2 separate regions of the Homo sapiens genome follow, and region 1 is linked to region 2. The links come from fine-mapping of genetic effects on gene expression. A gene starts in region 2. The other region holds a variant in brackets. All regions are shown on one strand. Distances are from middle to middle.

Region 1 (11,760 bases), 30 kb before region 2:
AGACCATCCTGGCCAACATGGTGAAACCCCGTCTCTACTAAAAGTACAAAACTTAGCTGGGCGTGGTGGCACTCGCCTGTAGTCCCAGCTACTTGGGAGGCTGAGGCAGGAGAATTGCTTGAACCCGGGAGGCGGAGGTTGCAGTGAGCCAAGATTGCGCCACTGCGCTCCAGCCTGGCGACAGAGCGAGACCCTGTCTCAAAAAAAAAGGTTTAATATGGACAGGGGATGGAATGTGGGTGGGGGGATCAAGAGAAGTGGAGAAAAGTTTAGAGAAGCAGGAGGAGCTTGGAGCCTGAGAACCCTTGGGTACCATGCCAGAGACCTGAACTTGATCAATGGGGCAGAGGCTTCCTGCCAGGTTCCCTGAAAACTTGGGATCTTTTAGGAATTCCACAAAGGTTTGCTTTGATTTTCATTTCAAAAATTAAACTATTTTTTAAAATAGGTGTGTACCCAAAATATAGCACATGGACTGAAATTTTTATTCACTGGAGAGCCACACCAACCTGTTGCATGTTTTACATACAGACCTTGGGGAAAAAATTGTATTACCTGAAGGGCATGTACACTTCACAAGGCAAACTATTAGGCATTTGCAGTGACTTATCTCTGTGGGCTCAGATTTTTCTCCGTATGAACAATTAAAAGGAAACACTGCAAGATACGGGGTAAAAGAGAGTAACGTAAGACAGCAGAGGCCTTCTGTACCCTGTGCTTGCAAATCTCATCACCTCACTTCATAATAAGTAAATGTCACACAGTTAACCTTAGGAAAAGTACCTCTGGTAATGAAAAGCAACTTAGAATTTTTTATATATTGGGATTCCATGTAAGATTTCAGTAGAAAAGTGTTTTGGATTTTCTTTCTTTTAAAGTTTGAAAGACACTCATCATAGTTGGTGAGTTTCCACTGGTGGATTTAAGCAGGACTGCAGCAGGGGGTGGGGGTATATCGTATGATCGAGTTGACATTTTTTAATGTAAAAAGGGCACTGGGGATGCCAGGGAGAGGATGAAAGGCAGGCGACGTGGGAGAGGCCAGGGAGGAGCCTCTTTGTAGCTATCAAGGGAAGAGAAATCTCCCATCTGTCCTTAGTACTTTCTCTGGCGACGTGGGAGAGGCCAGGGAGGAGCCTCTTTGTAGCTATCAAGGGAAGAGAAATCTCCCATCTGTCCTTAGTACTTTCTCTGGCAACAGGGGAGAGGCCGGGGGGGACCCTCTTTGCAGATACCGAGGGAAGAGAAGTCTCCCATCTGTCCTTAGTACTTTCTCTGGCGACGTGGGAGAGGCCAGGGAGGAGCCTCTTTGTAGCTATCAAGGGAAGAGAAGTCTCCCATCTGTCCTTAGTACTTTCTCTGGCGACGTGGGAGAGGCCAGGGAGGAGCCTCTTTGTAGCTATCAAGGGAAGAGAAATCTCCCATCTGTCCTTAGTACTTTCTCTGGCGACGTGGGAGAAGCCAGGGAGGAGCCTCTTTGTAGCTATCAAGGGAAGAGAAATCTCCCATCTGTCCTTAGTACTTTCTCTGGCAACAGGGGAGAGGCCGGGGGGGACCCTCTTTGCAGATACCGAGGGAAGAGAAGTCTCCCATCTGTCCTTAGTACTTTCTCTGGCGACGTGGGAGAGGCCAGGGAGGAGCCTCTTTGTAGCTATCAAGGGAAGAGAAATCTCCCATCTGTCCTTAGTACTTTCTCTGGCGACGTGGGAGAAGCCAGGGAGGAGCCTCTTTGTAGCTATCAAGGGAAGAGAAATCTCCCATCTGTCCTTAGTACTTTCTCTGGCAACAGGGGAGAGGCCGGGGGGGACCCTCTTTGCAGATACCGAGGGAAGAGAAGTCTCCCATCTGTCCTTAGTACTTTCTCTGGCGACGTGGGAGAGGCCAGGGAGGAGCCTCTTTGTAGCTATCAAGGGAAGAGAAATCTCCCATCTGTCCTTAGTACTTTCTCTGGCGATGCGGGAGAGGCCAGGGGGACCCTCTTTGCAGCTATCGAGGGAAGAGAAACCTCCCATCTGTCTTTCGTACTTTCTCTCCGTACCCTGGACCCTAGCCTTGACCAGGCTACCGTCATCTCGTGGAAACTGAGTAGCCTCTTAACTGGCCTCTACACTTCATGTCACTGGGACGTGTCTCTTTCTCACTGACAGCCTTTCCGTGGCTTCCCATGGCTCTGAAGGTTGGGTCTAAAATGCTTGCTCTAATCTTCCAGGTCTGAGGTGGTCTGCTGAGCATGTCACCCACACTCCTCCCATAGTGCCCTCCCACTCCCTCCCCCTTCTCCTGCCCCCATTTTTCTTTCTGACTCCAGGCACATCTAGGCCACTTTCCACCCCAGGGCCTTCGTACAAGCCAGTTCCTTCACCTGGAGGCTCTTTCACTTGTTTTCTGTGTATCTGACAACCCCTCATTCTACAGGCCTTTGATTCATTGTCACTTTCCTAAAGAGGCTTTCCTTCATCACCCAACTATCCAGGGCAAGGTTCTTTAGTTCTCTTTTTCATCATATCCTCAGCTTTTCCTCTAGCTCTAAGTATCACCTGTAATCATCTAATTGTTTTCTTGTGAGCTCAGGAATCTTGTCTGCCCCGTTCACTACTGCATCCAGGATGCATCAGTGGGTCGTTATAAACACAGAATTATCATATGACCTAGCAATTCCACTCCTAGTTTGTACCCCAAAAGATTTTAAAACAGATATTCTAACATAACTTGTTCATAGCACCACGACTCACAACAGTCAAAAGGTGGGAGCAACCCAGTGCACTTTACCTGATGATGGATAAACAAAGTGTGCTATGTCCATGCCGTGGAGTGTTATCCAGCAGAAACGAATACAGTCCTGATACAAGGTATACCATGATGAACCTTGGAAATATTATGCCAAATGAATAAACCCAGATGCAAAGGGCCACGTAGTGTATGATTCCATGTGTATGAAATGACCAGAGTAGGTGAGTTCTCAGAGACAGAGAGTAGACTAGTGGTTGCCAGGAACAGGGGGAAGAGACGATGTCTTGGTACAGAGTTCCCTTTTAGGATGATGAGAAGATTCTGGAAACAGATTAGTGGTGATGGCCACACAATATTTTGAGTGTACTGAATGTCACTAATGGTTAATTTTATGTCGTGTGTGTTGGGCCACAAGTCCTAAGACTTGTGAAAAAATTATAGAGTGAATTTATAAAGGAGTTCCTCCTGCCCGGCACATCCCTGTCATTTACAATGTGTTTCCTTGCCCCTGTCAGGCAGTGGCTTGCAAGTAAGGGTGACGAACTTGGGACTTCTCATGGAATTCTGGGTTTCTATGATTGCAGCTTCCAAATCCACCTGTGTTCCTTACCTCAAATGCCAGGCAGTTGGGATGAACCTCCCCTAACCCCACCCCAGCGGTGGGAAAAGCCCACTTCCCTGCCATAGCATACCTGATGTCCAGTTCCAAGTTACAGTAGTGGCAGTAACACTTGGGAGGAAAAAGTGAACTGGGAACAGAGAAAGAAACAGTTGGGGTGAGGCGAGTGAATTCCTTCCTTACCTCCCTTTCTCCCCATCCCCCTCTCGCTTCTTTCCCGTCCTCCCCCTCTGCTCTTTCCCTCTGGTTGTAACATCTTCTGGTCTTGCTTCTCTATTCAGCCCGCCTCTCACCACTCCCACCTTCTTCCCCATCTTCCAGCCAGTTCTCCTCATCCCCATAAGCAGCACAATCCCCTAAGCTGGGGTTTCTCAGCCTCAGGTTCCTGACGTTTTGACCTGGGTTATTTTTGTCGTGGCGTGTTGTCCTGGGCCGTATGGCAGGTTGAGTGGCCTCCCTGGCCTCTGCCCACTGGATGCCAGTCGAGCTCCCTCCTCCAGCTGTCACAACCAATCCTGTGGTCCAGACACTGCTGAGTGTCTCCTGGGTGGCAACGTCACCCCCGTTTCAGAACCACTAGCATAACTGAAGTCACTGTCTCAGGCTCATCTCCCTGGTCTCTCCATTTTCCTTATTCCTCACACCCAGCGCATAAGCAGTTCCTTTAGAACTGCTGCACGGCTCTCATCTCCATGAGCACCGCCAGGTCCCCTGCGCTGGCTGGTCGGGCCTCCTCTCAGTGTGTCTCCTCCTCTCAGTCTGTCTGCTCCCACTCTCGCCCTGATTCCGATCCACTCTCCACAGGCAGCATTGAGAAGGATCCTTTGATAACTCAGAAGGGATCTTGCTGGCGGCTGTCCACTAGCTTAGAACACAAGCTTCCTTCTCGTGGTCTATGAGAACCTTACATGACCTGGACCCCCCTGCCCCTCTCAGGTCACATAGATGTTCCTTTGGTTCCTCGAAGGTACTCAGTGTGTTCCTGCCTCAGGGTCTGCTGTGCATGCCTGCTTTGCTTGCAGTGGTTGCCCCCAAGCTGCTCTGAAGGCAAGATCCTTCCACTGTCTCATCTCTTATGTCCAGACGTTACCTGCCCGGGGAAGGCTGCCCGTGGCCATGGCTGCTCACTCTGTGATATCACCCTGATTTAGTTCATGTTTTTTGGAGCTGGCTGCTTGTTTCTCTGCAGTCCTCCTGCTATCCCAAACATGGGAGCCCTGGGGACTCAAGGACCTTATGGGTTCCGTTCTTCTCTGAGTCCCCAGCATCTAGGATGGGTCCTCTACACACGTGAATATTTGAAGACTGACTGAATCAATGAATGAAGGATGACTTGTCCTTCCTTCCATCCCTCCTTCCCTTCCGTCTTGCCTCCCTCCCTCCCTCCCTCCTTTCCTTCCTTTCCTTCTTTTTTTTTCTATTTACTTTAATTTTTTGAGACAGAGTCTCACTCTGTCACCCAGGCTGGTGTGATCTTGGCTCACTGCAACCTCTGCTTCCCAGGTTCAAGTGATTCTCCTGCCTCAGCCTCCCGAGCAGCTGGGATTACAGGCATGCGCCACCATGCCCGGCTATTTTTTGTATTTTTAGTAGAGACGGGGTTTCACCATGTTGACCAGGCTGGTCTTGAACTCCTGACCTCGTGATCCAGCCGCCTCAGCCTCCCACAGTGCTGCGATGACAAGCGTGAGCCACCGTGCCCGGCCTGGCTTGTAGTTTCTTGCACCCTGCCTTATTTTCACCTCTCTGAGTCTCGCACATGGTGTTTCTCTGGAATGCTTCCCCTGCTTCCCCTCCTCAATTGGCTAATTCCATTCTGTCCTTAACCCACAGCAGAGGTGTCACCTCCTGCAGAAAGGCTTCCATGAGCCCACACTTCCCCTAGGCTGAGATAAGCGCCACTGCCTCCTGCACTAGCACCTGCTCATGAAGTGCTACCACTCGGTGATCTGGTTCTCTCTGTGGATGTCTGCCTCCCTTACAGAATTAGGACCTTCTTGAAGGTAGCTCAACCATCAGAGTCCCCAGCAACCAGCAACAGGCTTGGTCCTTATGAACGTCCCTTAGAAAGAACAAGAGACAGCGGCAGAGAGAGAGGCAGAATGAGTGACAGTATTTCAAAGGAGCCCCTGGGGCTGTGTTAGTGCAGAAGGGAGAAGTTTTATCCCAGTCTAGAGGTGGGAGGGAGGGAAGAAGGAAAGAGAAGGAAGGAGAGAGAAGGAGGGAAGGAGGAAGGAAAGAACAGGGAGGGGGGGAAGAAAAGGAAGGGAGGAGGAGGGAGGGAGGAAGAGGGAGAGGAAGAAGAGGGAGAGGAAGAAAAGGGGGAGGAAGAAAAGGAAGGGGGGAGGGAGGGAGGAACGGGGAGGAAGAAGAGGGAGGGAGGGAGGAAGGAAAGAAGGGCAGAGAGGGAAGAAGGATGGGAAGGAAGAAGGGAGGGAGGAAGCAGACGGAGAGAGGAAGAAAGGAAGGAAGGGAGAAAGGGAGGGATGAAGGGAGGAGGAAAGAATAGGGAGGGAGGAGAGAGAAGGAGGAAGTAAGGGAGGGAAGAAAAAAGGAAGAGGAAAGGGAAGGAGGAAGGGGAGGGAGGGAGGGAGAAAAGAGGGAAGAAGGAGAGAGGAAGGAAGAATGAAATGAGAGATGGAGGCGGGTGGGAGAGTGGGAAGAAGAGAGTGTTTTACAGAAGGGCTCTCCCACCACTTCCTGCTTGGCACCTCTGAGGCACCCTCCTTCGCTTCCTCTGTGCCCCCACTTC[C/G]CTCCTCTTTCCTTCCTCTCCTCACACTCCTCCCCTCCGTGCTGCCTTCTTCTTACCCAGTCCCCTTTGTTGTAGGATACGAAGAGGTAGGTCATCACCATGTAGGCGCATTTCAGGAAGTTCCACGTGTTCTTCCTCTTGGGGAGTGGTTTCCTGGATGGGGTGGTGCCTGAGAAGGGTTTAACTGGAGAGAACCGTGGAGATGATTGATGCTGATGGCCTTCCCTTCCTGCCTTAGAGCTTCCTGTCACTGCTGTCTCTCCATTCTGATCTCCAAACTCACATCTCTGCCTGCCTCCTGAATTGAAATTTTGGTCCACACCCACCATCACTGCCAGCTTCCCCCTTCTTGGTTACCACCATACTCCAGACAAACAGTCAGGAATGCCTTTTGGCTCTCCCACCTCACATCCAAGACATCACCAAATCTGACCCTGTCTTGCCCAGATTTCTCACCAAACTGTCAGAGGGGTTTGAACCAGAGTGACTCCGTCTTGAATAGGGGCTGGGTAAAATGAGGCTGAGCCCTACTGGGCTACATTCCCAGTAGGTTAAGGCATTCTTAGTCACAGGATGACAATAGGAGGTTGGCACAAGATACAAGTCGCAAAGACCCTGCTGATAAAACAGGTTGCGGTAAAGAAGCTGCCAAAACCCACCGAAACCAAGATAGCGATTCAAGTGACCTCTGGTGGTCCTCACTGCTCATTATATACTAATTATAATGCATTAGCAGGCTAAGAGACACGCCCACCAGTACCATGACAGTTCACAGATGGCATGGCAACTTCAGGAAGTTCCCCTACTGGCCTAAAAAGGGGAGGCACCCTCAGCTCCAGGAAATCTCCACTCCTTCCCTGGAAAACTCATAAATAATCCACCCCTTGTTTATCATATATTCAGGAAATAACTATAAGGAGACTCAGTCCAGCAGTCCTTGCTGCTGCTCTGCCTATGGAGTAGCCAGTCTTTTATTCCTTTACTTTCTTAATAAACTTGCTTTCACTTTATGGACTTGCCTCAAATTCTTTCTTGCACGAGATTCAAGAACCCTCTCTGGGGGTCTTGATCGGGACCCCTTTCTGGTAACAAAACCACCACCTCTCCCCCATCCCCAGGCTTCAGGCTCTGCTCTTGATGGCTGCCTCTGCCCACTACGCCATCCTTTCTCTTTCTCATCCATCTCCCACATGAGTGCCAGCAGGATCTTTCTAGCACCAGATCCGACCGTGTCGCTTTCTTATGTCAAACCTCATGAGGTGCAAGAGTGTTTCTTTCGCCTGTGTAACATTTTTCCCTTGTCTTTTTATTTTAAAAGTATTACATTCAGAAAATCTCATTTTTTTTTTACACGTAAACCTGTCTGTCTAAACAGGTTTCCAATCAAAAAATAAAACATTACCAGTGTACAGGCAAATGCAAATCGAAAACGAAAAAAAATGAATTCTCCCTGTTGAAAATTCAGGAAGCGATTACTCCTTGTCCCCTTTGCTTAGAGCATTTACTTTAGAAAATTTTGCCATTGCAAGTCTCTCTCTCTTCAACGTTTACACTAATCTTTTTCAAAGCTAAGTAAGCCTGCGGCCAGCATTATGACCCAGGAGGGTGTTTTCAAGGACCTCGAAACATCTTCCCCAGCTTCTTGTTGGGAGGGGATGGAGCCTAACTTTGGTGGGCACCTCACCCCAAGTAGCAAATCTACCTCCTGTGATAAAGATACTAGAAGTTTATTTTTCCCTTGGATTAAGCCAATTAACAAACACAGTTGGCTATCCCAATAACCAAGTGAATTTACGGTGAACCATGTACAGCAAATAGAGCTGTCAAGTTCTTTAACTTGAGGACTAGCTGTTGTTTATCTTGAGAGCAGGTATGTAATAAGTTGTATCTGCTTGGCTATATAAAAGGGTGAAATTTTTTTTTTCTGTCTTTGCAGTCTCTTCGCATATCATGTTCTGGTTTAATGCTTACCCATTAATAAAACTATTTTCTTTCTCTTCTACCTGGGTGGAGAAGAGCTCTGGGTTTGGAGGATATTTTGTTTTTAATTATATTTCACCAACACCAGCATATCCCAAGCCTCTCAGATATACCCTCCCAATCAAAGGTACACAATCACATCTATAAAAAATGAGGCTCATCTTTCTTTCTTCACAATCCTTTTGCCTATTATTACCTTTCTCTTGCCTGGCTAGGATTTGCACTGGATAGAACGTTCAGTCCAATGTGAAATGCAAGTGGTGATAGCAAGAACGTCTCATCTGTGATCTCAGAGGGAACATGTTCTACACCCTCAGCCCTCTGTGTCGCTGGACTCTGCATCTGAGGACCCAGCCAAAAACTGGTCAAAAATACTTTTTAAAATCCCAATAAAAATAGCAATACAACAATAAAAACAATACAAAAATATAACAGTACAATAACTAAGGAGCATTTACATTGTATTATAAGTAATCTAGAGATGATTTAAAGTGTGCAGGAGGCTGTTCATAGGTTAAATGCAAGCATTATGCTATTTATATCACGGACTTGAACATCAAGGAATTTTGCTATCTGCGGGGAGGTCCTGGACCCAACCCCTGAGGATACTGAGGGACAACTGTGTTTTACCTTAAACAGCTTGTTCTTTGTAAGTTTTTGGTGGCTATTCCTTATTATATTAAGCTGTTCTCTCTACTCCTAGCTAGCTGAGATTTTTTTTTTTTTTAATCATGAACAAGGCTGGGCATGGTGGCTTATGTCTGTAATTCCAGCACTTTGGGAATCTGAGGCGGGAGGCTCACTTGGGCCCAGGAATTTGAGACCAGCCTGGGCAACATAGGGAGACCCAAACTCTACAAAAAATTTAATAAATTAGCTGGGTGTGGTGTCTCGTGCCTGTGGTCCCAGCTACTCAGAGGCTGTAGAGGGGAGGATCACTTGAGCCTAGGAGTTTAGGGCTGTGGTGAGCCGTGATCATACCACTGCACTCCAGCCTGGGCAACAAAGCTAGACCGTGTCTCAAAAAAAAAATAATGTAAGCTGTAAAATCTTACCATATTCTTTTTCTGTATCTACTGAAATGATAATGTGCTTGTTTTCTTTTATGTTAATAAGGTGGGAATACCATATATTTGTTTTTACCTATTAAACCATTGTCGCATTGCTGGAATAAAGTGAATTTAGTCATGATTGTTTAACATGTATTGCCAAATTGCACTTGCTAATATTTAGTCTAGGATTTTCCATCTATATTTATGAGGAAGATTGGCCTGAAATTTTCCTTTGTCGTATTTGTCAGATCTTTTATCAAGGTTATTCTGTCCTAAAACCGAGTTGGGAAATGACTGTTTTTAATTTTCTGGAAGATTTCCTGTAAGATCAATGTGATTTCTTCCTTTTAATTCACTATTAAAGCTAACTTGATCCTGAAAGACTTTTTTGTGTGTGGTAAGGCTATTTAATTACAGGTGGCATTTCTTTAATAGATAGAGGATTATTCAGATTTTTTTTTTTTTTTTGAGATGGAGTCTTGCTCTGTTGCCAGTCTGGAGTACAGTGGCACGATCTCAGCTCACTGCAGCTTCCGCCTCCCAGGTTCAAGTGATTCTCCTGCCTCAGCCTCCCGAGTAGCTGGGACTACAGGCACCCGCCACCACGCCTGGCTAATTTTTTTGTATTTTTAGTAGAGACGGGGTTTCACCAGACGGGGTTTCATCATGTTGGGTGGGATGGTCTCAATCTCCTGACCTTGTGATCCGCCTGCCTCGGCCTCCCAGAATGCTGGGATTACAGATGTGAGCCACCGCGCCCAGCCCAGATTTTTTATATCATTTCATTTGTTTTTGGTAATTTGTGTTTTTTTGGGATTTTGTCCGTTTTATCTAAACTTTCAATTTTATTGGCATAAAGTTTCTCCAATGATCACCTTATTGTTATTTTGTTACCTGCAAGATCTGCTATGATACTCTCTTCTTCCTTCCAAATATTGGCAGTTTGTTTCTCCTCTATTTTTTCTTGTCAGTAATGCTAGAGGATTAAATTTGTATTACGCTTTTCAAAAGAACCAACCATTAGTGTTGTTCTGGCTTTTTTTTTTTTTTTTGAGACTTGCTCAGTTACCCAGGCCGGATGCGGTGGCACAATCACGGCTCACTGCAGCCTCCACCTCCCCAGCTCAAATAATCCTCCTGCCTCAGCCTCCCGGGTAGCTGGGACCACAGGTGCTGCCACCATGCCCGGCTCTGCCTACTTTAAAACGCTCATCTCCACCATCTGGATCACTTGGTGGCTTGCTGCTATTTTCTGGTTTTCCGGCCCTCAGTCCTATCACCCAGGACTTAGCTTGGTAATTTCCATGTCGGGAAGAGAGGACTCACAGTCCACAGAAGCAGCAGCTGGGATAGAAATGTCTCCCACTCACATCTCAGTATGTTGGGTCTCCTCGATGCCCATGAGCAGTGTGAAAGGGGCAGTGGCTTGCAGACTTTGGATGCCCTTCAGGAAGGCAGCCTCTCAGGTACCAAAGCCCCTGCAGGGCCTTGATTACCTGAAATCTTCTCTTCTAAGGCTTTATCATAGCCCAGACAGAAGGGACACACTGTCTTATAGATGAGGAATGGTACGACCCCAAGCACTTACCTTCCTCCTTGCAGCCACTTGTTTCTTCTAAAAATGAAGAGATGGAGGAGAAAAAGAAGCAGGAAGAGAAGGAGGAAGAGGAAAGGAAGAAAGGGAGGGAGAGAGGGAGGGAGGAAGAGGAAGAGGAAAGGAAGAAAGGGAGGGAGAGAGGGAGGGAGGAAGAGGAAGAGGAGGAGAAAAGAAAGGAAAAGAAAAGAAACCATCAGGTGAATTATGAAGTGGGTGGAGACCAAACTCTAAATAGTGCTTCCAGGTGCCTCGAATGAGGAGAGAAGAGAATAAAGTTAGTCTCCCTGTGTCCCTGGATCCCAGGGACTCAGCTGCCTCAGGGCCTTTGCATATACTGTTCTCTCTTCCTGGAATGCCTTTCCCCCAGTTATCTCTGGCTCACCTGCCCTTCTTCTTCAAGCCTTTGCTCACATGTCATGTTCCCTGATCGCCCTTTAAAAACTTTTTTTTTTTGAGACAGAGTTTTGCTCTTGTCACCCAGGCTGGAGTGCAATGGCATGATCTCGGCTCACTGCAACCACTGCTTCCCAGGTTCAAGTGATTTTCCTGCCTCAACCTCCCGAGTAGCTAGGATTACAGGTGCACACCACCATGCCCAGCTAATTTTTTCTATGTTTACAAAATTTGTTTCAAAATAATTGTTTGTATTTTAGTAGAGACGGAGTTTCACCATGTTGGCCAGGCTGGTCTCGAACTTCTGACCTCAGGTGATCCACCCACGTCGGCCTCCCAAAGTGCTGGGATTACAGGCATGAGCCACCATGCCCAGCCAAAAAACTTAAGTTTCCCGCACTGCGTTTCCATCCCCATTACTCTATTGTCTCCATAGGACATAATAGCCTTCAGCAGACCTATAACTACTGCTCTTTGTTTTTTCTCCTCTGATTGGAATACAAGTTTCACTTGGTCACAGACTTCTGTCTGTTTTATCCTCTGCTGCATCTCTAACACCTAGAATAACATTTGGTACAGGAGAGCTAACATCAGTTAATATCTGTTGGACAAATAAAAACATGTTAAACATTTATGA
Region 2 (11,760 bases):
CTCTGCCTAAAACGGGTCTGCATGATCTTCCCTTTTCCAACTCCTTATCTGTGTGAGATTAGATTTTCATTTGCTTCAACCAAAATAGCACATTGTGGCTGGGCGGGGCGGCTCACGCCTGTAATCCCAGCACTTTGGGAGACCGAGGTGGGCAGATCACTTGAGGTCAGGAGTTCAAAACCAGCCTGGCCAACATGGTGAAACCTTGTCTCTCCTAAATATACAAAAATTAGCCAGGCATGGTGGCATGCACCTATAGTCCCAGCTACTTGGGAGGCTACTTCGGATGCTGAGGCAAGATAATTGCTTGAACCCAGGAGGCAGATGTCATGGCGAGCCGAGACCGTGCCACTGTATTCCAGCCTGGGCGACAGAGCAAGACTACGTCTCCAAAATAAACAAACACATAAAGCTAAAAAAAAAAAAAATAGCACATTGTGACAGACTGAAGCAGAAATGAGAATTCAGCTGTTTTCTATTAAACTAGACATCAAAGAGATTTGCAAAAATGTAAAATAATACCTTTCTTACTAAACTTTTTTGGTTTGGAAACAGCCATTTCACTAAAACATTTTATTTATGTCAGTATGTATATTTATTATCCTTATTTTTCAAATATTTTTAATTTCAGTAGCTTTAGGGGTACAAGTGGTTTTTGGTGACATGGATGAATTGTGCAGTGGTGAAGTCTAGGATTTTAGTGCACCAGCATCTTTGTAATGTACATTGTACCCAAAAGGTAGTTTTCATCCCTCACCTCCCTGCCACCCTCCTTCCTTCTGAGTCTCTATTATCCTTATTTTTTTAATGCAGTAATAGATATTTGAATAATAGCTTTACTGAGATATAATTCACATACCATGCAATTCACCCATTTCAGTGGTTTGTAGGATACTCAGACTTGTACGACCATCACTACACCAGTTTTAGAGGCTTTAATCACCCCAAAATAAACCCTGAACCCCTTAGTCATTGTCTCTAAATTCCCCCACCCCTCACCCCCTGGAAATCACTAATGTCCATTGTGTCTCTATGGATTTGCCTATCCTGAATATTTCATATACGGTAAACGGAATCAGGTAATATGTGATCTTTTATCACTGGCATCTTTCACTGAGAATAATGTTTTCAAGGCTCACACACGATGTTGAATGCATCAGAACTTTGTTTCTTTTTATGGGTGAATAATATTCCATTGTATGCATAGACCACACTCTGTTTCTCCATTCATTAATGGATGCATGCTAGGATTACCTTCACTTGCTAGCTCTTAGGAATAGTGCTGCTGTGAACATTTGTGCATGGGTTTTTGTGTGGACTTACGTTTCATTTATCTTGGGCACATACCTAGAGCGGAATTGCTGAGTAACTCAGTGTTTAACATTTTGAGGAACAGCCAGACTGTTTTCCAAAGCAGCTGTATCATTTCACATTCCCACCAGCAGCATATGAGGGTTCTGATTTCTCCACGTTAGTTAGTGTGAAGTGATACCTCACTGTGGCTTTGGCTTCCATTTTTCTGATGGCTAATGAGGTTGAGCATCTTTTTATGTGCTTATTTGTAAATAGAAATAGTTTTTGTAAATATAAGTATTTGTATTTGTAAATATTTATAATATTTGTAAATATAAATATTTTTAAGTTAAAAATCCTTGAATTTACAATAAGGTAAATATCAATAAAGATAACCTTTGGCCGGGCACAGTGGCTCACACCTGTAATCCCAGCACTTTGGGAGGCCGAGGTGGGCGGATCACCTGAGGTCAGGAGTTCGAGACCAGCCTGACCAACATGGTGAAACCCCGTCTATACTGAAAATACAAAATTAGCCGGGCATGGTGGCGCGCAGCCTGTAGTCCCAGCTACTCGGGAGGCTGAGGCAGGAGAATCGCTTGAACCCAGGAGGCAGAGGTTGCAGTGAACCCAGATCGCACCACTACACTCCAGCCTGGGCGACAGAGCGAGGCTCGTCTCAAAAATAAATAAATAAATAAAAATAACCCTCACTGGAAAAAAAAAAAAAGAGCTCTTTAGATCCTTAATAATTTTTTTCGCGTGTTCAGTGGCCCTAAGACCATGAAGTTTGCAAACCACCAGCTGGTGTTAAACATAAGCCAAGGTGTTATTCTAATGGAGATCTGCCCGAAGTCTCTCTTCCCTGATAAATGCTCTTCATTTTCCGAATAGGCCTCTCTTCCCCAGACAAAGGAGTGAAGGAGGGCTGCTCTTTTAGTTGTGAGCATCACTGTAAGCAAACAATAGGTTTGCTTTTCTGAGTCATGTCCAGACCCCATGGCAGGTCTGTGCACCAGATCCAAGTGCCACCCTTCCCCAGAATTGCCAGAGAGGTTGCAAGATCGAAAAGAATTTTAGGAGAGGTAGCTATGAAAATACAGACTTGGGGGTTCCACGGTTCTTACTTTTTTCTTTAGTTGCAACTGGAGACAAAAGCATCAGCCAGCCAGTTCACAACGGGAGCAGGGAGCAGAGAGAGAAATTAGCATTAGACTCAGATCAGTGCAATAACCAAGAAGACCAGAGATAGAAGTGTCCCTGGAGATCAGCTGACCCACTCACTGCTATCAATAAAGCTACTCGGGCCCATCTATCAGCCCATCCATCCATCGATAAGTCCATTCGTTCATCATCCATCCAACCAACATTCACATGGTACATGCTCTGGGCATTGGCCCATGTTTGGTGTTGGAGACGCAGATAAATCAGATTCAGCCCCTGCTCTGTAGGTATTTGCAAGGCTGATTGGGAAGAGAAGTTCTGGTATAAGAGTACACTAGACACCCCAAACTCTGTTCTCACAGAACTTGCTATCTATGGATGTCCCAAACATCTTACAGGTGCTTCAAGCTTAGCCTGTTCAAAAAAGAATCTGTGGTCATCACACTCCTATCCATCAAAAAATAATCTGTTAATGCAATACTTTTTATTTATTCTTACTATTTTTTGTAGAGATGAGTCTCACTATGTTGCCCAGGCTGGTCTCAAACTCCTGGCCTCAAGTGATCCTCTTGCGTTGGCCTCCCGAAGTGCTGGGATTAAAGGCTTGAGCCACTGCACCCAACCAATACGATAAATATCCCTGAGTTCACGCTGATATAAATAAATACAGTACTTGAATAAATAAATGGAGAAGAAAAGTCAGCTTTTCCTTACAGAGAAAGGCCATTGAATATATGTAGATGAATAAGGGGAATAGAAAATCACCATTGGAGAAGCACTGTAGCAATCATTTCTGCAGCAAGATCCACAGATGGATGCTAAAATTAATGGGCAAAAATTGGAGGAGAACAGGGTATTCGCATAGCCTCAAAATTTCTCCCCCAGCGTATTTATTAATTACAAAGGGGGAAAATAGTAACTTAACAGTGGAGAAACCTGGCAGACACCACCTTAGCCGAGGGACTAAAGTTTACACCATGGGTAATAAGACACATCAACATCATGTGGTCCCTGATATAATTCCCGGGGAAGGGTGTGAGACCACTTCTGTGGTATTCCTGCCCTAAATGCATAGTCTCAATCCAATCATGAGAAAGCTTCAGACAAACCCAAATTGAGAGAAATTCTGCAAAACAACTGATCAGAGCTCTTCAAATGTTTCAGGGTCGTGAAAGACAAAGATTGAGGAGGTTCAATCACACATCCTAAGGACAAATCACAAGACCAAAGGAGATGGGATAACAAAATGCAACATGGTTGAGCAAGAGCTGGATTTTCTGAAACAAAACAAAACAAAACAAAACAAAAAACTTAATTGAAAATACAAGGTGGGATCCTGGATTGGATCCTCAAATAGAATAGTTTTTCTATTAGTAGAAACATTAGTAAAATTTGAATGAGGTCTGTAATTTCTTTAATAGTTTTGTTCTGGTGTTGGGTCTTGCTTTTAGTCATTGTGCTATGGTTAGGTAAGATGTTAACAGCTGAGATAACTGGGTGAAGAATATTCAGAAACTTAATTTTTGTGACTTTTCCTCAAGTCTAAAATAATTTCAAAATAAATTTTTTAAAAAACGTGTTCCTCTACAGAGTTTTTTTTTTTTTCTTTTTTTCTTTTTGAAACAGAGTCTTGCTCTGTTTCCCAGGCTGGAGTGCAATGGCAGGATCTCGGCTCACTGCAACCTCCACCTCCTGAGTTCAAGCGATTTTCCTGCCTCAGCTTCCTGAGTAGCTGGGATTACAGGCCCCTACTACCATGCCTGGATAATTTTTGTATTTTTAGTAGAGATGGGGTTTCGCCATGTTGGCCAGGCTGGTCTTGAGCTTCTGACCTCAAATAATCCAGCTGCCTTGGCTTCCCAAAGTGCTGGGATTACAGGTGTGAGCCACCGCGCCCGACCTCTACAGAGTTTTCTCATCTCAGTTAAGGGCAGCCTCAATTCCCCAGTTGCAAATACATGTATGTATAAAGAGAGCCTTTCTGCATGCTTCTCTATCCCCAACCACCAGCATCTGACCCATCACTCAATCCTGTGAGCTGTTTCCTCAGTGCCTCGTAACCTTCTACTTATCCCCATCTTCACCCTGATGACCAAAACGTTTTCTAACTTGTGTGTTTGCCCCTAATCTGATTCCCACCTAATCCATTCTTTCCTGAGGGCAAGACACATTGTTTAAACACACAGAAACACACATACATGCACACACACGCTCCTAAATATGACACTCCTTTGCTGAAAACCCTTTCACAGCTTCCTTTTCCCTGAGGATAACATCCAACATTTTTCCTGTGACTCACATGCCCCCGTCTGTTCTGTTTCCTGCCTCCTGTCTCTTCTTACTTGTAACAGTCTCACCACCATGCCCCTCCTTCTGCCTACCACGTTCCTGACACACCGGCCTCTCTCTGATGGAGGGACTCAGTGCCTTCTGCCCCAGGACCTTTGCATATTCAAGTCTCTGCCTGGAATAGTCTCTCCTAACTCTTCAGCTGGCCAGCTCCTATTCCTTACCTCAAATGTGACTTTTCTAGAGAGGCCATCTCCGAATCCCCACACTAGAATGTGTGTGTTTAGCATGAGAATTCCATGAAGACAGAACTATTTTCATCACTATATTCCCAGCATCAAGCCCGTGGAAAGAACCAGGAATAAACATTTGTGGATCGAATGAGGAAATGGGAACTCAGAGTTATGGCAAGACCCAAGTCCTCTTCCCAATATACTCTTTGGTGTCTTTACGTCGCAAAAGTCTGGAGTCTCACTAGAATTATCTAACTATGGTAATGTTGACTTCCAGGCACTGCACAACGTAAGCTCGTCAATGACATGCAACAGTCCCATGAACTGGGGATTCTTGTGAGCCCCGTTGGTCAGATGAGGACAGCAAGGTTTGCAGACGCAGTGTCTCCCCAAAGTCACAGAATCAGTGATAGAAACCAGGATGCAGACACAAGTGTATCTCCAAGGGCAGGGGCTAGCAACCTAGACTCATTCACCCCACTGTGTCCATCAAGGGAAATGTGAATGTCTAAATGGGAAGCAAGAAGAAGTCTGTTAGACTTCAGGAGCTTCTCTCTGAATCCAGCCCACAAGAGCCTCCCAAGTTGTAAGAAAATACATAGAGGACACAAGGCATGGCTGGAAGCATTACCTTCACGAGGAGTACAGGCTTCTGCCAATCCCAGGAAAAGCAGAATCAGCAGCGACATTTTCAGAAATGGCTCTGATCTGTGCATGATGGGGCTGGGATTTGGGCTGAATGTTCTCCTCCTAGGATAGACAGGACTCTCTGGTCACCCACCGTCTTCCCAGGCTCCAGGGACAAAACTAACTGCCCACACCTGCCCTCTAGCCTGCCTGGAGGCTGGCAGGTCTCCAGACCTGTGCCCACGCCACCAACTGCTGACCAAAGAACTGTATCTGCTTTTTCATCTTAAAGCAACATTTTAGAACAGTTTCATGCTGAGTGTGATGCTTGTCATCCTATGATCTGCTGGCCAAATCCTGCCCTCCTCCTGTTTTTGTAGGGCCTATGAGCTAAGAGTAATTGTTACCTTTTTTAATGGTTGGAGGGAAAAAACAAAAGAAAATATTTCATGACATGAAGATTATATAGAATGTGAATTTCAGTGTCCATGAATAAAGTGTTATTGGAACACAGCCATGCCATTTCACTATGTATTGTCTACAGCAGCTTTCAGGCTGCAAGACTGAGCTTTGTAGTTGTGACAGAGACCATCTGGGCCAAAAGGCCTAAAATATTTACTGTCCGGCCCTTTATAGAAAACGTTTGTGGACCCCTGTCCTAGACGTACTGTAAATTTCAGAAAAACAACAAAGCAAGCAAACAACATCTATCGTATTTCTACTCAGAAGTAAGTATTGTTTTTACATTTTTGTGTATATTCCTTTCCAAAGATGTCTACGTTTATACTTACCTCTAGCACTTACTAGCTATGTACCCTGAGCAAGTTACTTAACCACTCTGTGCTTCATTTTCTTGATCTATAAAGTTGGGATAATGATATTTCCAGGCTAATGTGATACTATCATATCACACCTGTATGATAGTAAATTTGTACTGTTGTAGCCATTAAGTTTGTAATAATTTTTCATAGCAGCCACAGGGAACTAACTGTTTCCACTGGTAATTCTTAGAAATTGCTTTGACAGTCAAGAACTTTAGCTGTCAGTGGGAATATGAACTTGACCCAGTATCCCTCTGGACTCCTGGAATAAAGGCAGAGTGTAGAGACCACTGGTCTATCTAAGCTCTGAAGGTTTCTATGGTACTTCCTTCAAGCCTGATAGAAACAGAGGGTTGTGTGTAGTGTCCTGGAAGGAAAGAGTTCCAGGTGTGGAGGGATGTCCACTCTTGCAGGGGACTCTCTCCTGCCGCCATCTCTGGTGCTATCTATGTTTCAATCCCTAGTACAAGCTGGACCATCTCATGTACATTAGGGGATACCTCAGCGATCCTTCAGACTAGGCTGGAGGAGAGAGTTCTTGTTGGCCATTTGCCATATTTCAGAGCTCCCCTCCTTTGTGAGCACATGGTCCTGGCAACTCATCACCGGGAAAACGTGATACTACAGGATTTGTTATAATGAGCAGAAGAAACAAGGCGTAAAACATGTGGAAGGCTTTTCACATCCGGTGCTATGCGGAAGTAAAGACCACCCAATGAAAACAAGCAAAGGCTATTAATTCAGAGCTTGCTGTAATAAGGGAGGCCACTGACACCATTTGTGTTTGGCACAGACTCAAAGGCAGGCAGGGTAGTGGGAAAGCTTATAGTGAAAGAAAGGGAAGGCTTCAAGAGTGCCTGGTTGGAGGCCGTTGGCATAAGGAAGCTGGCAGTGGTTAATTAGAGGCCATTGTGATTGGTTGGGGGAGCATATTTGGATTTCTCTGATTAGTCCTACGTTTCGATTTTCCATCCTTCCTTAGCAGCCTCATTACCAGCACAGCTGTTTCTTTGCTTTATCAAATATAATCACAGTCCCTAACTCATAACACTAGGGTTTAAATGCAACAAATGCCTGGGATGTAGAACATCATTAATATTCTTTAGCATTATCTGCTCTGCCAGACTGTGATCTGGGGACAGAGATGAGTCAGATACTGGCCTTGCTCATGAGGAACTCATGCTTTAGGGAAGATCAGGATTTCTCACCATTGGCACAGCTGACATTTAGGACTAGATCGTTTTTGTGGTGGGGGCTGTCTTCCGCTTTGTGGGATATTTAGCAACATCTCTGGTCCCTATCAATTACACAGTAGCACCTGCCCCACCCACCCCACACCAACCACCACCGCCACCATGTTTGGGGAGCCACAACTAGGAAGTGATGAGCTTTTAGTGCTTATTACTCTATTTTTATTATAACTTATTTATGTTCAAGTTTATACAATTTAGTTTTGAGTATTGGGCTATGTTAGGCAAGCAGCTAAAATGAGGAATTTTACCTCAATTTAAAAATGTTTTAAATGTAGAAAACTGAAAACGTTAACAATTGACCCTCATAAGCTGGCTCCAGTACACGTATGTAATATTATTTTGTGTGTTTTTACATTTATTCTAAATGGTGTTTCACTGAATCTTTCTTGCACAACTTGCTAGCTATGTATGTATTTATTTATTTATTTATTGAGACGGGGTCTCACCCTGTCGCCCAGGCTGGATTGCAATGGCACGATTTCAACTCACTGCAAGCCTCCGCCTCCTGGGTTCAAACGATTCTCCTGCCTCAGCCTCCTGAGTAGCTGGGATTACAGGCGTGCGCCACCACACCTGGCTAATTTTTGTATTTTTAGTAGAGACAGGGTTTCACCATGTTGGCCAGGCTGGTCTCGAACTCCTGACCTCGTGATCCACCCACCTCGGCCTCCCATAGTGCTGGGATCTTTTTTTTTTTTTTCACCCAGCGTGATGTTTGTGAGATCCACTCATGTCTATGTGGAGCAGGGAAGTGGTGCTGGACCTGGAGACGGCAAAAAACCTGGTTGTTATAGTCACAGACAGCCAATCAGTTAGAATCACAGACATTGAGTCAATCCAGTGTGGATGCCAATCCCTGCCCCACCACACTACGGCTGGCCTGAGTTTCTTCTTGCTACCATAACAAATTACCATAAAATTTGTGACTTAAGACGACATAGATTTATTATCATACAGTTCTGGAATTGAGAAGTCTGAAATGGGTTGATAGAGTGAAAAGCCTTGGTAAAGCTACATTCCTTCTGCCGGCTCTAGGAGGAATTTGTTTCCTTGCCTTCTGCAGCTTCTACAGGCTGCCCACATTCCTGACTCCTGGTCGGCCTCTTTCATCTTCCTAACCAACAGCATGGCGTCTTCAAATCTCTCTCCAACCCTCTCCCATTTTCAGGCCAGCGATGGCCGGTCAAGTCTTTCTCACCGTACATTGCTCTGATTCTCTGTTTTCATCATTCCGTCTCCCTCTGTTACCCATTTCCCTCCCTCTTTCACTTACAAGATCCTTTGTGATTACATTGGACCTACCCCAGTAATCCAGGATAATCTCCCCACAAGGTCAGCTGATTAACAGTCTTATTTTTATCACATCTGAGAGTAACACACTCCCAGGTTCCAGGAGTCAGATGTGGGTATCTTCAGGGACAATTATTCTGCCTGCCTCACAGATGCATAAACTTGCTCAATTGACTATATCCCTGAGCCTCGGTTTCCTCCTATTAATGATAGCAACAATTATTATCATTAATTATTATATTATTATGCCATATAATTGTGAATGTTTTAAAGTATATTGAGGGGATGTGGAGAAATTGGAGCTCTTATACATTGCTGGTGGAAATGTAAATTGGTATAGCCCCTGTAGAAGATAGTTTGGCAGTTTCTCAAAAAGTTAAATATAGGGCTACCGTATAACCCTGAAAGTCCACTCCTAGGTATGTACCCGAAAGCACGGAAAACAGGTAATTACACAAATATTCACACACGAATGTTCACAGCGACACTATTCACTAGAGTCAAAATATGGAAATGATTCGAATGTCCATCAATAGATTAATGGGTAAAGTGTGGTATAGCCATATAATAGGATATTATTCAACTGTAAAAAGAAATCAAGTACTGATACATGCTAGAACATGGGTGAACCTTGAAAATATTATGCAAAGTAAAAGCAGCCAGACACAAAAGACTACCTAGTGTATGATTCCATTGATACGTAATATCCAGAACAAGTAAATCCTTAGAGACAGAAAGTAGATAGTGGTTGTCGGGGACTAGGAATGGGGAGGGAAAGAGGAATGGCTGCTTAGTGAGATGGGGTGAGGGGTAAGGAAAGTGTTTTAAAACTAGATGTGGGTGACGGTTGAACAACATCGAGAATGCACTAAAGGCCACTGAATTGTACACTTAAAATGGTTAATTTTATATCATATGAATTTTACCTCAATTAAAAAAGTTTTAAATGTAGAAAAATGTGTTAAAAGCTCTAAAAATAGCAATTAAAAATCCCATGTTACCAAAACAAAACAAAGAAAACAGTACAAGCATAGGGACTGTGCATATTAAAAGTAACTAAATTTAAAAAGTATTAAAAGTAACTAAATTTAAAAATTAAACCAGCAGCAGCAGCAGCAGCATCTGAGGCTTCTACAGGGAAACAAGTGGAAATAGTTCAACCCCTCTGTACAGTTCCTGGGGCAGTCCCAGAGCTTGAGCAGGTGGGAGGGATGAGCATTCTGTCCCTGCCGCAGGGGCCATTACACCCACAGGGGCAGCGCCCACACAAGGGGTCTCGGCTGCAGCTGGCATGACTGGCTCAGCCACACCAATGCTTCTGTGTCCTGGGCAGCCTGGCTTCCCAACCCCCAAGGAGTCCCAAGCCACTGACTAGGTCCTAGAATAGACAACCCATGTCCTGGGCTCTGGCTGGCTCTCCAGTCAGTTCCTTCACATCTATCCTAGATAGAGGAGCCCTTGGAGTCTTCTGTCCCCCACTAAACAGATAAGGGAGCAATGGGTCAGAAGTTTCAGGGATTTTTCCCAGAAGGGACCTGAAAAGTGTCATCGGATTTAGCCAGGCTCTGAAATCATAGAGGTGCGGGATCAAACCTCAGCTCCCTCCACCTCCTGGCTGTGTGCACTAGGACAAGGATTTCTTTTCTTTGGACCTCAGTTTCTCAGGGAGTAAAAATGGAGGTGTCATAGCAACAGTCGATACTTTTTCTAGCACTGACTACATCCCAGATGCTCTTCTAAGAGCCTTTGCCTATAATAACTCCTACAACACTATGAGATGGGAACTGTTATTAGCGTCATTTTATAGATGAAAAAAGTGAGATCTAAAAGCATAAGGTCCACTCAGAATCACACCACTAGTAATTGGCAGGACTGGGATTCGAAGCTAAGTATATGAATCTGCAGTGAATGCTCTAAACCAGCCCTGTCCAGTAGAACTTTCTGCAGTGATAGGAATGTCCTGTATCCGTGCTACCCAGAATGGTGGCCACTAGCCACGTGCGGCTGCTGAGCACTTGAGGTGACGCTAATGCAACTAAGGAAATGAAGTTTTCATTTTATTTCATTATGAAGCATGTAAATCTAAATAGCTACGTGGTAAATCTAAATAGCTACATATATTGGACAGTGCTGCTCTAAATCATGATACTAAGCGCCTCTCAGCCTTAATAGACTATATACCTAACAGGGTTGCTATGACAGTTCTGACAGAGCCATATGTGTAAAAGCACCCTCTGTGAACCAAGCAGTCTCGGTGTTGGGGATGCACTTTCTCTAACCCTGTGGAGTTTATAGTCTGGTGTAGGAAGACAAACAACAATATTGACAAACACATATATAATTTCATGTACTGGTCATTGCTGCAAAGAAACTGAAATAGGGCCATGTGTTAGAGACCGATGGGGTTGAGATGCTGCCGTAGCTAGAGTTGTCAGGAGAGACCTCACTGAGATGGTCACATTTGAGTTTAGATCCTAATGAAGATCTGGGGTAAGAGTAGCTTAGACAGAGGGAACAGCTTGTGCAAAGACCCCGAGGCAGAAAAAAGCAGAAGGAATTTGACACGCAGAAAGAAGATCATTGTGGATGGAGCAGGGTAAGCTCATGGGAATGTGGAGGGAGGAGAGGTTAGAGTGGTAGGCAGGGGCCAGATTGTCAACAAACCTGAGTGGGCTCCGCCGTGAGAATGATAGTAAGCACAAACCAGGAACATTCCTCTTTGTCTGCTTTCCCTGGGCCCTCTTACACCCACTTGGTTCTCTATTAAATATGGGCATCTCCGGCCAGGCA

Evidence for each region. PIP is the estimated chance that this variant, and not a neighbour inherited with it, causes the effect.
Region 1: its variant is fine-mapped to the expression of EDDM13 in blood mononuclear cells (TOPMed, PIP above 0.99). The same link has a PIP of 0.9 or more in whole blood.

Annotation. Positions count from the first base shown.
Region 1 is chr19:56,296,493-56,308,252 of GRCh38, reverse strand. All of the region lies in intron 2 of ZSCAN5A (zinc finger and SCAN domain containing 5A), which reads left to right. EDDM13 (epididymal protein 13) reads right to left here. Exons shown (of 15, transcript NM_001354658.2): 12 at 10,722-10,748; 13 at 6,158-6,285; 14 at 3,423-3,460. LOC124900420 reads right to left here. Exons shown (of 5, transcript XM_047439799.1): 5 at 1-11,760. The coding sequence starts at 2,012. The coding sequence ends at 894. Among named protein-coding and RNA genes, the nearest start is that of ZSCAN5A-AS1, 12 kb to the left of the region's middle. The variant C/G (reference allele first, on the strand shown) is at 6,102.
Region 2 is chr19:56,266,770-56,278,529 of GRCh38, reverse strand. It overlaps EDDM13 (epididymal protein 13), which reads right to left and starts at 5,782. Exons shown (of 15, transcript NM_001354658.2): 1 at 5,611-5,782; 2 at 2,421-2,438. The coding sequence starts at 5,695. The region is part of intron 2 of ZSCAN5A (zinc finger and SCAN domain containing 5A); the gene reads left to right. It overlaps LOC124900420, which reads right to left and starts at 5,782. Exons shown (of 5, transcript XM_047439799.1): 1 at 1-5,782.